Linked DNA regions of Homo sapiens: region 1 is linked to region 2. The links come from fine-mapping of genetic effects on gene expression. Tissue or cell type: whole blood. Region 2 holds a variant in brackets; the other region holds the start of a gene. All regions are shown on one strand. Distances are between the middles of the regions.

Evidence for each region. PIP is the estimated chance that this variant, and not a neighbour inherited with it, causes the effect.
Region 1: it holds the start of C8orf88, and the variant in region 2 is fine-mapped to the expression of C8orf88 in whole blood (TOPMed, PIP above 0.99). The same link has a PIP of 0.9 or more in blood mononuclear cells.

The regions. Positions count from the first base shown.
Region 1 is chr8:90,981,379-90,989,727 of GRCh38, reverse strand. C8orf88 (chromosome 8 open reading frame 88) reads left to right here and starts at 4,490. Exons shown (of 6, transcript NM_001190972.2): 1 at 4,490-4,614. RefSeq lists a silencer at 4,307-4,466.
Region 2 is chr8:90,871,855-90,880,203 of GRCh38, reverse strand. It overlaps NECAB1 (N-terminal EF-hand calcium binding protein 1), which reads right to left. Exons shown (of 13, transcript NM_022351.5): 4 at 8,051-8,076. All of the region lies in intron 2 of LOC105375634 (a long non-coding RNA gene), which reads left to right. Among named protein-coding and RNA genes, the nearest start is that of NECAB1, 84 kb to the right of the region's middle. The variant C/T (reference allele first, on the strand shown) is at 4,279.

The DNA of each region.
Region 1 (8,349 bases), 110 kb before region 2:
GTTTAGGAAACGTGGAGAATTCCCTAGCTTATGTAAGGCCATGTGTTTTTTTTTTCTGGTTTCTTCCTATGTACCTGCCTAACTCCTTTATAAACTTTCCCTTCTACCTACCATCCGCCATCCACAGATCTCCTTTAACTCCCTCCTCACCAATGCAGACTTCAGTACCTGGTTTTTATTCTTATCACATGCCACTGATTTAAATGTCAATGTGAATGGCTTATCTAATACTGCAGTCTGGACTCACAGTTCTTCGTCAAGTCTAATGACCTTTATTTTCCTTTCACTTCTGGTATTCACCTCTACAGCGGCATGCTGGGTGGTTATACTCAGAACCACTCCATCTCAACTCTCACACTCAGTTATCCCACTGTCTGAAAATACACCTCTTTGAAAATATACCTCTTCTGTCCGGAAGTCTCACACTGTGAGGACTTCAGGTTTATTATTCTTTCAATTTATCATCCCTTCCTTTATTTGCCAATGAATCTCACAACCACGCAGGTAAATGCCTTTATAAATTTCTGATCTTCACCTTCAGCTGACTCCTCAACAGTGTTCACCTGTTTTCAGGTGAACATTCCCCAGAAATGCTATCTCAAAATTTGAAAGTCCTACTGCTTTCCACAGTAGACCCCTTCCACTTATACTGGATAATCTCTACTTCACCTATTCTTGCTTTTGTCCCTTCCCTTCACCTACAATCTAGATCCCATTCTCTTGTGCCTCCTCAGGCAAATCACAGTATCTTTTTATTTTTTTCCTGTATCGCTCTGGGTGCGCAAGTCAATAACTGGCATCACTATTTTCCACTTTCCACTCTCACACTCTACACTGTTAGCAGTTTTCCTTATTCTCTCAGCTATGTGTACTTTTCTTTCCTTATGGTCACTATCTACCTTTACTTATGGCTCTCAATAAACATTGCCTGGATTACTGTAAACCTCTGAACCGATTCCTCTGCCTCTCTTCTTGTCTTGCCTGATGCCTACTCTGCTTCCCAATCCATTTTTCATGTTGTCATTTAAGTAATTTTTTCCCAAATGGTCATAGAATACTATTAAACCCAAACTAAAATCCTTCAGTGTCTCTCCATATCCTTATAAAGGAGATAAAAGACACTTCATCTTTTATTAGCCTAATATCAAGCCACTACCAGGCAGTCTCTTGTATTTTGTGTTTCTGCAGTACTGAATTACTGATGTTTTATTTTATTGGCTGCTGCTCTATTCCTGTATATCTCTGGGCTTGTTCTTTCACCTGCAAGGAATACCCTTTTCTAAGTGGGTAAATGTTTTATCCTTAAAAATCCTGCTCAGGCATTACCTCCCCTGTGAACCCTTTCGTGATGTCTCTTCTCCATCCTCCTACCGTTCAACAGAAGTATGCCTTTCCATGTAGTCCTTCTTTTATTCCACGTAAACATTTCTACTACATATACTATCTTCTATTTCATATATAGGCACTATTATTAAGCTAGCGTTCTCTTCTTGCTAATTTTGCATCAGCCTTTCTCATCATATTTCAGTTTTTCTTTGTAACCTCAGTGTGTATCAGCCTTTCTCGTCGTATTTCAGTTTGTCTTTGTATCCTCAGTTTCTAGCACATAAACATAGGTCTTCAAAACCTTTGCTGAGCTGAACTGAGCTGAATGAAACTAAGTCATTATTATAGCTTTTAACACAGGGGTTTCTAACCACTGCCCTCCCCCAGACCCCAGACTGGTACTGGTCATTGGCCTGTTAGGAAACAAGCCACACAGCAGGAGGTGAGTGGCAGGTGAGTGACTGAAGCTTCATCTGCATTTACAGCCCCTCCCCATTGCTGGCATTACTGCCTGAGCTCTGCTGCCTGTCAGATCAACAGTGGCCCATAGGAGTGTGAACCCTATTGTAAACTGCACATGCGAGGGATCTAGGTCGTGTGCTCCTTATAAGAATCTAATGCCTGATGATCTGAGGTGAAACAGTTTCATCCCAAAACCATACCCCGCCCTTCCAGTCATCCACGAAACCAGCCCCTGGTGCTAACAATGTTGGGGACCACTGTTTTAACACATTCCTATAATAATTATGAGCATCTGTGTTGTGTGTTTGTTAGTGTATCCTTCATAAAATGCTTCGTAAATGTTTGAGGAATAAATGAATAAAAGGCGACTATTGGCAGGAGGTTGGCAAGGAAATCATTTGGTAAACATGAGATAATGCTACCTCTTCAGCTTTCTGAGTTGCCAGGCTTTCAGTGGCACCACCCAGATTTAACAATTAATTTACTGAGTTGAAATTGTCTGTTTGCATATCTGCACCCTCACTAAACAGCACATACCATGAGATCAAGTAACCAGTTTGTATGTGTGTGTGTGTAGTTCTAGGTACTGTGAAAGTGGAGTTAAATAAAATATGAAAATATAAGTTTAAATAAAACCTCTACTTATAAGTAGTAAGACACATTATAAATTATTATCCTTCTAACTGGGATATCTATTTCCACTGTTGCTTTTTCTCAATCCATTCTCCAATTCTTTGAGTGGCCAGAGCAGGGCAGGAAGCAGGGATGGGGGGCGGTGACCAAAGTAAATATTTACTTAGAATAAGAAAATCAGTGACAACAAATTACAGATTTTTAAAAAGATGATAAATACCACAAATATTTTAGAAATTCAGTAAAATGATATTTTAAATTAACTACCTGAACCATTGCTATGTTTTTCCTATATTTTTAGTTTTCATTTTTTTATTGCCTCATCATTTGACAGTAATTTTGTAATGCACTTTCCCTGGTGATAATGAATAATGTGGTAGTCTTTTCAAAGCAAAGTTAGTCAACATGTATTTTTTGTTATTGAAAGCTTAAAAAAGTTATTGCAGTTTCACAATTTGTTATTGGTAATAATGCCAATTTTTAGTATTGCTAAATTTGGGGAAACTCATCTTAAGGTTCTTAGGTGAACTCTGTGATTTCAGGGCACTTCAAGTTTTCTCAGGCAGTGACTAACCTTTAAGTTGCTAAAAGTCATTAACCTGTTTGTTGTCAAGTTCTTGTTGTAAAGGTATGAATTCTAGATTATCCTTGTAGATGCCAAAATTTTATGTCATTATCAATAAGATTTTGAAAAGTTTCGATATGTTTATATGGTTCATTTTTCTTCCTCAATTATCAAAAAATCAAGGAGTCTGTCTAGTCTAATTTCTCTCTTCCTCTCAATAAATTACTAATACTGATCTGAATTGGAATTCTTCCAATTTACATTTTTGTCACAATAGTTTCTACTGACTTCATACAGTGATATGCACAAAATAATTTTATTGTAAGATGTATATAAAATTATACATGCTTCATTGTTAAGTATATTCCTGAAGAAGAAAACTTCTGTTGTGACTAGATGGATGAGAACCACATCCTGCACTTAAGATTTTCTACATCTGGTGGTTGGAATATATTGATTCCACTGTGCAGACTTCTGGTGCCTCACCCCAAGGGATGCCCTTTTATCATGACCCATCTCTGACCCTGGACCCTAGGTCTCTGATGCCAGGCGAGTTGTCTCAGTGGATAGTAGGAGTGTTTCTGGAAGCCATTTCTAAACGGAGACAGCTCCAATAACTTGACTATACATGGAAGTGCTTGTGAAACTTCATACCTTCCAAAATGGTAAATCCTGATAGTGCCCCACTTAAAACCGTTCAGTGTTTGCCAGTGCATTTTCAACTGTCCTTTTGGTGCTTGGGGACGTGAGGGACTGCCACCTCCACGTCCCTCAGTACAAGCAGACAGTCCCCCTCTGGGGACACTCAAAGATAATGAAAAATTAGCAAAAGGATTGAAGGTGAAGATTAAAAAGAAATGATTCGGATGGAGTTGCCTTAATTCATTTTGTTCCTTTCAGGATGGCAGTCTGTGTGAAACGCTGTATCCCTGGTCTGAGGTAAACCAGGTCTCAAACATCTTCCTCCCTGCCAACCCGAATCCCGACACCCACTAAATGCACCAAGGGGAAAGCAGCGCCTGCCAGCAGCTCTGACGGGGGACAGGAGTAGGGTGGACTCAGTCGTCAGCACGACGGCGGCCTCCCTCACAGAGGCGGCCTCCCTCACAGACGCTGCCTGGAACCCGCCGCCAAGCCCCCAGCAGGCGGCCCGCCTGGCGCCTCCCAGTCTTCGCACAAGCAGGGCCACGGTCTGGGGCCCCCAAGGCCGTTCACGCGGGCGCGCCCCGTCGAGGGCTAGCCTGTCAGCGCCTCACTCGCGGCCTCCTACCCTAGACGACCGGCTCTGGGTGGCGCCGCTCCAACCCCACGCGCCCAGCTCGCCCGGGAAAGCGCGCGCCACCCTTTTAACGGTTCTACCCCGGCAGGGGTGCGGCTGCTCTCGAGGCTCAGCGCCCGAGGCCACGCCCCGCGCCCGCCCTGGGCCCGCCTCGTGCCCCTCGGAGCCGCCTCCCGCCCCGCCCCCCGCCCCTCGCCCCCCGCCCCTCGCCCCCCGCCGCCGCCACCGCGGTCAGCCAGCGGACCAGCGGCAGGAGCCGTTCCCCGACGGGCAGCAGGGCGCTCGGCCTCCGCGTGTGGGCTGAGCGCGGCGACGCTGCTGCCCCGAAATCCCCGTGGATTTTGAGTCGGTAAGTGGCTAGGGAGGATGAGCGACACTGGGGGACGGAAGTCGGGCCCCGTGGTGTGGAGGAGGCGGGTGGGCGCCGTCTCCCAGGCCCGACCCCGGGAAAGTTGAGGCGAGGAAGAGAAGCTCTGAGGTGGGTCGGGAAATCTCTCAGGGCCCCTTCAGTACCCTGTGGACCCTGAATGGGAGTGGGATGGGAGCGAGAGCGTCGGATGAGGGGAAAGAAAGTGTAGGGGGCCAGGGGAGCCCGACGGAGGGGCAAGTGGCCGAGACCAAAGCCATCGCCAAAAAAGGAGCTAAGTACACAGCTCCCCTTGGCTCTGCCCCAGCACCTGGTGCCAGGCGGTGGGAGGCTTTCAAGACGATTTGCCCCCTCCACCCGGTGGCACAAGGTTTTCATTGCTGGTGTTTTAGTCAAAGCTACGGAAAGGACAGTTACATGACTAAAGTAATCACAGACACCTATTACCTGGACAGCTTTAGCCCATCCGAATGTTAAATTGTGTTTTGTTTTGAGAAATCCCTCAAATAGACCAAAAAAAAAATTAAATTAGTTATAAAGAGAAGGCATGAAATGGAAGATATGTTGGAACTCTCCAAGCTTCTAGTTTTTTGATATTTTCGTTTTAATTTTTCCTTAATAGTGCAACCAGATATATGGAACGTGAAATGTCTTTCACCACTTGAGTCATAGGTGGTTTATTTCTTACTCCCCGATGTTTCCTGTATGTTTCTCTTCATCTATCATTTTGTCAGTGTGAGCAGTTTACTTACAAGCAGTATTGGGTTTCAAGGAATCCTAACTTTGTAATGTTTTGAAGTTGGAAATTGAGATGAAATTTTATCTGGTTATCATATGGGAATTATACACAAGGTAAATTCAAATATGGTCTTTTCATTTCATTATTTCACTTTATATGATCTTATTTCTCAACGGCAGCGGTAGCATCAGTACTTTCCAAAGAAGACTAGAATTTATATTGGAGTTTAAGTATAGTACTCAGCTTCTAAAAACAGTGCATAGTATATTTCATATGCTGTGATCTATGGTTAGTATGGCAGTATACCATGTCTGTAGCGTGAGGAAAGCACAGTACTCCCTAATTTATTTAGTATTCTAAGAAAAATGGTAAATTGAAGAAATGGATATTATTAGCATATACCAATTTATTCTGCATGGCCTTATAAATAAATGTTACTTTTCACATTAATTTTTAAATCTATACACGCAGTGTCCACATGTAATAAATGGACAGTCAGATATCTTTCTTTTATGTAACAAATAGGCAAGTTTTGATATAAAGGTGTGAACTTTGTAGTCAAATCCTAATATCTAGCACTTAGTAGCTATGTGGACTTGGGCATGTCTCTTATTTTTCTGAGCCTCAGGTTTCTTATCTGTGAAGTGGGACTAATAATAATTTTCTTCCACCGTTCATATATGGCTCAAAATTAAATGAAATTATATTTAGTATGTAGTAGGACCTTAAAAAGGCATCTTAATTAAAAAATAAGATTAATAAGATTTTGGCCAAAGTGGTCAATGTATCTGCTTATTATCCCATTGTATTTTAGACAATTCTAGGTTTACTGGTAATATCAGGACTGATAAGGCCTGAAGATTCATACTTAGGTAAATTTTTTAAAAAGAAAAGGAACCTAAGATATAGTTAGTATTGCCAGGTGTAGAATAGCAACTGTAAATAACTAACTGATTTACCAATATTCTATTCATACAACTTGGTCTTTAAAGATGATTTGTTAAGTGTGTGTGATCTTGAAAAAAACTATTCAGCAACCATTTCTCAGTATGTATTAATAGAAAGTTTTTTTGGAGACATTGGATCAAAATATCCTTTAAAAAACATTTATACCACAAAACTATACATTTACATTTTTAAATTTACATTTTACAACCTTATGATAGGCCCACTACTTGCTACCCAATGTTGTAGGCAGAATTCTGTTTATTTTGTAACTGTGCTTTGAATCGTTGATATGATACATGGCTACTCTAGGTAGCACCAGTAGCTTCAAGGGAAACTTTTTGATCTCTACATTCCATGGATGAAGCAGGCATTAGAGTTTAAGACTGAATTTGTTTTGTATAATGACTTTGTAGTGCAGTTAAGTCTTTATTATTTTTAACTAAACTGAGAATTAGGTTTTGGTTTATGGAGTTCTGCCTTAATTATAATCTCGTGACTCAGTTTTACAATAATAATTACTTTTTATAAATACTTAACCTTTTTCATTAATAACATGATGGTGGAATGTACTATGCATTGTAATCCCAAACTTGTCCCCTATAATGTCAGTGTTTCCCTGCAGGCATCGTTTACTTTAAAAAAAAATATTAAACAGAGTACTGAATGACACCATCTTTTCTAATTTCCTTAACTGATGTGGATTTATATACAGGGAGCCATTGCTGTATCTTTCCTACTGTAAATTGAAGGGTAGGTGGCACCAAAAGAGCTTTGATTTTTTGTTTATTTACTTGTGTTGCAAAGTCATATAATGGAGTTCTGTAATCCCCAACTCTTGAAAATCCCTAGTTTGAATACTGTGGATTTGCCTTGCTCAGCGATTGGAAAAGACTTAACAACCTACAACTAAATTTCAGCTGAGCAATGAAAAACAACGAAGTGTGTGCCAAAGTACTCTATCCTATTGTATTCTGATTCACTAGTTTCATATGGGGAACAGGATGGAAAGTTACTACATACTAGTATTAGGGTCTTAACTAAAATAGCTAGGATAAACATCAAATAAAGCAATGTATATTAGGTTGCTTTTTGGTCCTTATTTTAAATATACTCTTCTACATAGAAAATATTAATAACTTTATTTGAAGTATTTTTTCTATTTGTGCTTATAACTTTTTTTTCATCTTGTTATATCCAATTGTATTGCACAAAAAGTACAGAGAGCATTAGTTTTGCCACGTTGAAATACTAGCTAACAGACACATTACAAAGCTGGGTTGGTATTAACTTGAAGTACTTGCTGGGTTATCTCCAAATAGTAACTTTTGGGTGCTTACTTATCATTCCTAATTTTGAGAGGTTGTTTATAAGTTTATAATTTTAACATTTGAATTATACATGTCCAAAGATATTTAAAAAATAGGATAAAGCATTTCTGGGAACTTAAAGGGTTACTAACTCTATCTTATACTTGGTGAAATAGGCACTTAGACTTATGATTTGCTTAATATCATATGGTTACAATTATTTCTGGATAAGCAGGTGCAAAATCAAGTGGAGTTTTATTTTTGACTTTGTCTTGATGGGCATCAAAATTTGGAAATCTTGTGTCCCATACAGGTGTCAGATTTTAGTTGCAATGACGAGGTACTTAGCGTTTATAGAGTTTATTTAATAAATCTATGTTGCAGATACTAGAATACAAAAATAAATAAGGTCTGGTTTTTGTGGCCTCAACTAACTGATAGTCCAATAAGTAGACATGTAATATATTTACTGTGATATATTTTAGAAAAAGTGATAAAATACAGTAGGGACCAGTGAAGGAGGAATGTAAGGAAGGAGGAATTATTATTATTGTTATTATTATTTTATTATTAGAGAACTTCATGTAGACTATTTTATTTAACCTTACCTGTTGAGACAGGGGGATATTTTCCAAGGAAGTGGCAAGAGCTTGATCTTGGTCTTGACAGATAAATAGCTGTTTGGAAGAAGAGCAGCAGAGATAGTAAGGGAACTATAGACAA
Region 2 (8,349 bases):
AGTATTTGTGGAACTAAATTAAAATGATAAATATTATCACATATAAGCCACTCGAGATTATGGGAATACATTTCAGCATGTTTGATGGAAACCGCCTTGATTAATTTATTTAATACTCTAGGAAATATTTGTTTATATTGATATTAATAACAACTGGAAATTGCCATTGACTGATATATTAGTTAGTGTACAGACTTCTTTTGAGAAGAAAATAAACACAGGTGGACACTAAATCAATTCCAGATCATGGTTGTCAAAATACAGTCTGTATACACTTAGGTTAAAAACAAATAACATATTTTTGACAAAAAGTAAAATGCATTCCTTAAAAACAATGTGGTGTAAACTATCTCTTATAAAGATTCTTTAGAAAGTGATTAGTTGGAAGATAAATAAAATATTTACTCCTTAAATACCTGCTTCAAAATAACATTTTAATTTGTGGTTATAATGTTGACTTTTTGATAAGGTTGACAAATATGTCTAACTTTATTTGTGCAATTATTTATAACAAATGAACACTCTTCATCAACCAGCGAGCAGTTAATGTGGCCGTAGAATATTCGTAAGTTGGAAAAATAATGAATATCAGAACTGAGTCTATACTATGTTGAAACAAGCAAAAAGCATAAGAAAAATGCCAAAAAGTGAAGCTGTTACTTCATTTTTATTTTAAAACTTGTATATATAATGCCTCAAAGAGGATTGTGACAGGGGTTTTAAATGCAAATAGACAAAAATATAAAGTGAAAACAGGTTGGGCATGGAGGCTCGTGCGTATAATCTCAGTATTTTGGGAAGCTAAGGCAGAAGGATCACTTGAGCCCAGGAATTCGTGACCAGCCTGGGCCACACAGCATGGTGGTATGTGCCTCTGATCCCAGCTACTTGGGAGGCTGAGGTGGGAGGATTGCTTGAGCCTGGGAAGTCGAGGCTGCAGTGAGCCGTGATAGTGCCACTGCACTCCAGCCTGGGCTACAGATGAGACATTGTCTAAAAAAAAAAAAAAAGAAAGTGAAAACAAAAAAATTGTTGCTAAAAAAGCAACACTCTCTCTCTCGATATATATATATTATATATAGATATCTATATATAGATACCTATATTATATATATAATATATATAATATATATTATATATAAGATATATATTATATAAATAATAAATAATAAATATAATATATATTATATATAATATAGATATCTATATATAATATATGTAGAGAGAGAGAGAGACAGTGATTAGTTAGAAGATAAATAAGAAAATACTTACTATATATATATATAGAGAGAGAGAGGTAAAGCCTCTTTTTAAAATAAATATTTCATTCATGGACATTTGGCTTAATTAGTAAAGGTTCCTGGAGAGAATTTAAGTTGTCTTTCCACTTTAAAATTGGACCTATGCACACAGATGCAGGCATATGCTGATAAAGCATATAAGAAAAACAATGACTAGAAGCTTCAGAGCTGACACCTATCTAGACTTCATTCTTTCTGTCCTTCATTCATCCATTTATTCATCTCAACTCTCCAAGTTAGAAAAAAAGAACAATCACTAGATAGTAAAGAAAATGACTGAGAAGGAAGAGAATTACAATACTTAAGTCATGGATAGGAGCTTAAGTTGGAAATCTAAGTGTAAGGATTATTTTGAGGTGGTGCAGCTCAGTGTCACTAAGGCTCTTTTATAACTTACTCACTGAGGGATATGGGTCAGGCAGTCAAGGCAAGGGGGCTCCAATAAACTCAAAGAGGGAAGTTAGATGAAAGAGCCAGACACATCCAACATAGATAAAGAGAGATAACTCCCCTCCACTTCATCATAGCGAGTGTTCACTTACTCATTCTGTGGCCTAACAAACCTTTACTTAGGGCCTTTTATGTGCCAGGTGCTATCATAGGAGCTTGGAATACAAAGGTGAAAAGACAGAAGCCCTAAAGTCAGAGAGGAGAGAGAAACATTCCAAGTAACAACTGCAATACACATAATCATTGTTAAAGACAATGGTTGAAGGGCCCAGATACAAGGTGCAATCCAAATAGAGGATAAGGCAGGAGAATTGCTTGAACCAGGGATACCAAGGTTGCAGTGAGCCGAAATTGTGCCACTGCACTCCAGCCTGGGTGACAGAACGAGATCCTGTCTTTGAAAAAAAAAAAAGAAAAAGAATGCCCAAGTCTGCCTGGGTGAGTCAGAGAGGGCTTCATAGGAGAAACACCAGCAATGGCTCAGTTAACAGATGAATAGGACTTAACCTGCTGGATACTCAGAGGAAGGGCATGGAAGCAGCTGTTTTCCTGTCATGTTTGCAGGAGTATGTGTAGTTCAGCACTGCCAAGACATAAAGAACAGGGCTGGAACATATTTGAGAATGGGAGGCAGCAAGGAAACAAATCCTAAAAGTCAGTGTTGGGAGATAAAGCTGTATGTGTTGGAAACAGTCCTTGCCAGATGCTCTTTGATCCTCAAGTCTAGGTAAGTGTTTTTGACCACCTGCATCAGAATCCTCTAGTACTTCACTGTCCAAAGTTTGTTTTGTGGACCAGCAGCATTAGTTTCACCTAGGAGCTTGTTAGAACTCAGTGTCTCAGGCCCACTTCCAGTCCTGTTGAATCACATTCTGCATTTTAATAAGACCCCCAGGTGATTTGTAGGCTTATTTAAGTTTGAGAAACACTACTCTAGGGTACTTGTTAGACATGAAGATAACTGAGAAGGTCTCATCTAGTAAATCACAATCTTTGGGTTGAGGGCGAGGTTCCCTAGGAGATTATGATGCAGAGTAAATTCGAGACCACTATGGGCAATGGGAAGCCATGGAAAGGAGAGTGACATCCTCAAATTCTCCTATCAGAAAAGGAAGGGATGCACTAAGGATGATTTGGGAATGTTGGTGACACCATCAAGAGAGAAGGGAGGTATCAACTGCCAGGAGGGATTTCATCACACAACTAGGACTATGAGCCATGCCAAAGCTTTGAAGTGGAATGAGCGGTGGAGTCCAGAATTTCAGCAGATCTGCAAACTCCAAGATGTGGTAGGCAGGAGGGAAGGACAGTGACATATTTGGAAGTGGCTGAGCTTGGACTAAAGTTTTATTCCAAGTTTCTCATGTTTGTGACTGATGTTTCTCATTTGAATCACAATACCAGTGTGAGTAGGGCAAATGTATATTGTCCTTAAGTCATGGCATTAGAAAGAATGACTTGGAACAAATATTGATTCCTTAAAATGCTTTCCTTTGGTAACTAGAAGAACTTCCTGAAGAAAAGACCTATTTTGTTGAAACCTGTATGTGGGTTTCATGAACTTGAGCAAAACAGAGTCATATTGCACTTATGGAAATGTGTGAAAACCAATTCTCATCAGTTTAAATGAAGTATCATTGAAAAGTAGAGTCTGAATATTAGGTATGATGAAAAAGTAGAGCACAGTTTATAAGCAGATGTAGTAAGCCTGTTATCTGTCAGGAAGCAGGCTATATTCTCATGGATATCCAGTGTGCCATCTTCTCTACTAAAATGCTAACAAAAAATTAGTTTCTACCTGCCTTTCTGTACTTAATCAGTGGTGTTGCATTACCAAACTACAGTTTTGTTCTGTTTTTCTATCCTGCACCTTAGTCTTTCAAGTTGTTGAGTTTTCAGGTCAGCTTAATAATTCTGTCAGAAGCAAAGGACCCACAGCTGCCACAAAAGTCTCAGTGGAAACTGGTCTTACAAAGTATTCTCATGAGTTTAGATGACTCTCATCTAAACTTCTCAAGCAGTTAGACTTTCTCAAGTAGTAGACTAGGTAGAAAAGAAAGTAATTGAGATGAGAGAGAGTGTTAAAACCCGCATGTTCTGAATAGGGAGGTCAGTCAGATCTAGAAATGTGGGCTATTTTGAGGGGATGCAGATAAGCGACACGCAAACTCTCTTACATCTCAATCATCAGTGACATGTGCCACTGGAGGAGGACACAGCAGTCTGGAGGAGGGCATAGAGCCTTCTGATTTCCTAGCACTCAGACTTGCTGGCACAGGTCTCTGAGCACTGTCCAGGCTCTGCCAATCTCTGCAGCCTGGGTGCTTAGTGCACAGCTACCGAAAGGAACCTTGGGTATGAAGGGAATAAGCTTTTATTCTGGAGTTTCCCGTACGCTCAGTTATTTTATTTTACTTTACTTTATTTATTATTATTATTTTTTGAGACAGAGTCTTGCTCTGTCGCCCAGGCTGGAGTGCAGTGGCCTGATCTCAGCTCACTGCAAGCTCCGCCTCCCGGGTTCACG[C/T]CATTCTCCTGCCTCAGCCTCCAGAGTAGCTGGGACTACAGGCGCCTGCCACCACGCCCGGTAATTTTTTTTTTTTTTTTTGTATTTTTAGTAGAGATGGGGTTTCACCGTGGTCTTGATCTCCTGATCTCGTGATCCACCCGCCTCAGCCTCCCAAAGTGCTGGGATTACAGGCGTGAGCCACCGCGCCCGGCCCCCGTACCCTCAGTTTTTATCCATCTTATTTATAGACTTCATATAACTTTTAAAATAGTTTAATATTTTGTAGATAACACCCGACTAGATGAGAAATTACACTATTAAATATATTCAACCTTCCTCACAAAGCTTTCTTACAGAAAGGCTTTCAGATCAAGCACATTCATTGCAATTATTCTTCGCTCATCTGTAAATATTTCAACTACCTATTCTTTTTTTTTTTTTTTTTTTTTTTTTTTTGAGACGGAGTCTCGCTCTGTCGCCCAGGCCGGACTGCGGACTGCAGTGGCGCAATCTCGGCTCACTGCAAGCTCCGCTTCCCGGGTTCACACCATTCTCCTGTCTCAGCCTCCCGAGTAGCTGGGACTACAGGCGCCCGCCACCGCGCCCGGCTAATTTTTTGTATTTTTAGTAGAGACGGGGTTTCACCTTGTTAGCCAGGATGGTCTCGATCTCCTGACCTCATGATCCACCCGCCTCGGCCTCCCAAAGTGCTGGGATTACAGGCGTGAGCCACCGCGCCCGGCCTCAACTATCTATTCTTAACTACCAACTTCAAGATCTGCAAAACGGTTCAGTAAAAATGAGTAAGGTTATGAAAACAGTCATAAACAGGGTAGGGCCAGGAAAGGTAGTAATTATACTCCTGAAGCTTTAGATTATAGCTAATTATGGTAGAAATACAAAATCAAAGCTTTAATGCCAGAGTTCAAACACAATTGCCTAATTAAAACTGAGTTATGTATTGACTGATCGTGATAAGATACGGCAAAAAAAAAATGCATTTAGGAAGGCCTTCACAATTGTATGTGAAGAGTGGATAATTTTGGCACTTCTATAAACTGCTGGTGGGTGTGCACCTTAGAGAAGCCTTGATTGAGGAATTACATGTTTGGGAATCTACCATTCAGAATTCAGAATTACTTGAACGTGAGTGTGAGAATAATGTATATGAGAATATTTATTTCAATCCTGTTTTTCCCATGGAAGGTTGGATTCAAATTGAAAATCCATTAAAAGGAACTTGATTGAAAAAAATTAAGGTTCATGAGACACTATGCAGCCTTTAAATAAAATGAAGGAAAAGGGGATGCAACTGCACTAATCATATAGTATAATCTCACTGTTGGAAAAAACAACAACACGTACACATATATATCAATGTCAATATACACATAATAATGTCTGGAAGAATATGTTCCAAGTAAATAGTAGAGCTCAGTATTGGGGACGACAATGAGTGGCACAGAAGATTGACATGTTAGCTTATACGCCTACATAATTCTGTTAAATTTTAAAAATAGTAGTTATGTATTACTTTCACAATTAAAATTACAAACACATTTTTTTCAAAATAAATATTTTAAATTCTAGGTCCTTAACTTAGTAACTGACAAATTAAGTAAAAGCCTCAGAATTAAAGTTTTACATACCTGCAACTTCTAATTGGCTTCTAGGAAAGAACATATGAAATCTACTTTTCATGCCAATCAAGTTCTGCCCCTCCCACGCACAAGGGGGAATTTGTGCTGGGTGTGAATTGACATATTTCACTTGCTAACACTGAAGCATTTGGCTTTGATTAGAATCCAACTTAAATATTTACTTTATATTCACAAAATAATGAGAAATGAAATGACACTCTGGAGATTAAAATGCATATTCTTGAACAGAGAGGGGGAGGATTATAACACATGACTGAATACAATCACTGGATTTAAAAAACACAGAACAATTCCTGTTGAATTAAAGCCCCACATACCAGTTCCCTAACTAAAGCTATAGGGGGAAAATCATAGCCAAAGCTTTTTCCATAAATACAGGATAGGGACCTAACTAGTTCCATTATAGAAAAAAGGCATATTTTTAAAATATTTTTTTCAGTAGAGGAGTAAGTGGAGATATGCTATCATACTTTAGAACTTGAAGTACTTTCAAGGAAAAACAGAGGATAACACAATATTCCTTAATGACAATAGGCAGGCAACATAGCAAATAAAGAAGAACCACTTAGTGTTTTTATCTTAAAAGCCCTTATAACAGTTTGCTTTGTCATCAGCTGTGGCCTACCCAGGCAAAGTTAAGTGAAAAACAAAAAATAGATATAAATGAATGATTTGTGGAAATAATTACTTTGGCCTGACATAGCTAGACATTTTAGGGAAATGGGTCTGCTACCTTAATGAAATTATCAAGATAATCTTGTGTTCTCCATTTTATCTTTTCACTTCACTGACCAGGACTGTGTGCACATAGATGAGAGTGGACCACAACTTGGCCTTTATGGTGACTGCTATTCATCATAAAGCCTCACGGCAATGGTCCATATGGGCACTTTCAGGTACTTAACCATGTGTGCACAATGCTACTATCTGACTGTGTCTGAAAGAATGGCATGATTTTCCCTGTTGGTATTTCATAACTAACAAAAGCATGTCCTGCTTTGGTACCGGAGTACCTTGCTCCTCCATAAACATATCTTGAATTTCAATTGGATTTTCCTCCCTGAACCTGAGATGGACACTATGCTAGGATAAGAAGCATGAGTTTTTTTACAATCATTGGAAAATCTGAAAGGTCGTTGTTGGAGATTATGCTCATTTTGTTCAGTTATTGCCTTGAAACCCTGTATTCTGATATTTTGTTCTCGTATAACATCTTTTGGTGTTGCTCTACCACTTTGATGAAATGGAAAATAACCACTCTTGAATATAAGAAAATGGCCTTTTTTTATGGTTTTGGTAAATTCTGAAACTGTAAGAATTAGAAGATGTTCAGGAAATGCTGATAGTTTCAATGAGGAGTTCTCAGACAAAACTCAACTCTAACTACCAAAAATGTTTTGAGCAGCCTAGACAATAAGATCGAACTTAAATAAAAGTATTATCTTAAACATTTATCTTAAAACATAAAACATTAAACCTTCCAGTATTCAGAGAAAGATAGCTCTTTCAAATGGAATAGTCTCATAATGTTCTATTTTTTCATAAAATAATAAAATTTTAAAATTTTACCTTTCCATATTTCTAATCTTTAACTATTGTTCCAACCATAAAGATGAAGAAAATAAATGAAGAGGCTATTAAACCAGGCATTTGTAAAGATGTATCTGTCCCCATTGAATCACTTGTTTTGCAAGTGACATTTACAACTCCAGAATGGTTTAGGCAGGTATGAGACAAAGTTATTTTTACATTTCAAGAAGAGAGCTTTGTAAGGTAGTAACAAAAGGCTCTGCACAATATATCATGCAGAGAATAATGAAGTTGTATTAAACATCAATTTAAAAATATATTCAAACTTGTGGAGAATTTGCTCTTGCGAAACTAATGTACTGATTGTAACAACAATTCTTCTTCTATGAACGAACTAATGAGGCCCAACTCTTTCTGGAGTGAAATACATACTTGAGCAAAATTCACGGGTAAAGATAAATCCCTTGAGATCTCGATTAATTTTTCCTTTGTGAACTCCTAATATACAACATTAATTCCAAGGTTGATATATATCAGACAATACTCTTTTTCCTTCTTAAGCAAGTAATAGGTTTGACTGATCTTAAAGAAACACTTACCACATAGCTCTTCTGTGTCAAGATTACTGAAAAGATGAAACAAAAAAAAACAGTGTTATTACTTTGGTAATATTTTTAACTACGTTTTTAAATAGTTAAATACAGTTAGTCTCCAAGCTATATTATTAATTGATGGTATGTAGTTAAGGTATTTCTCTTATAAATTCTACATTATTTAAATAGTCTTAGGTCAATTAACAATGATTATGTCAGATTCTTCGGACAAATAATTCCTGAGATTTATATTTTCCTCTGCAACATGATGGGGAAAAGAATGCATATTGGTAAAGAATGTAGGC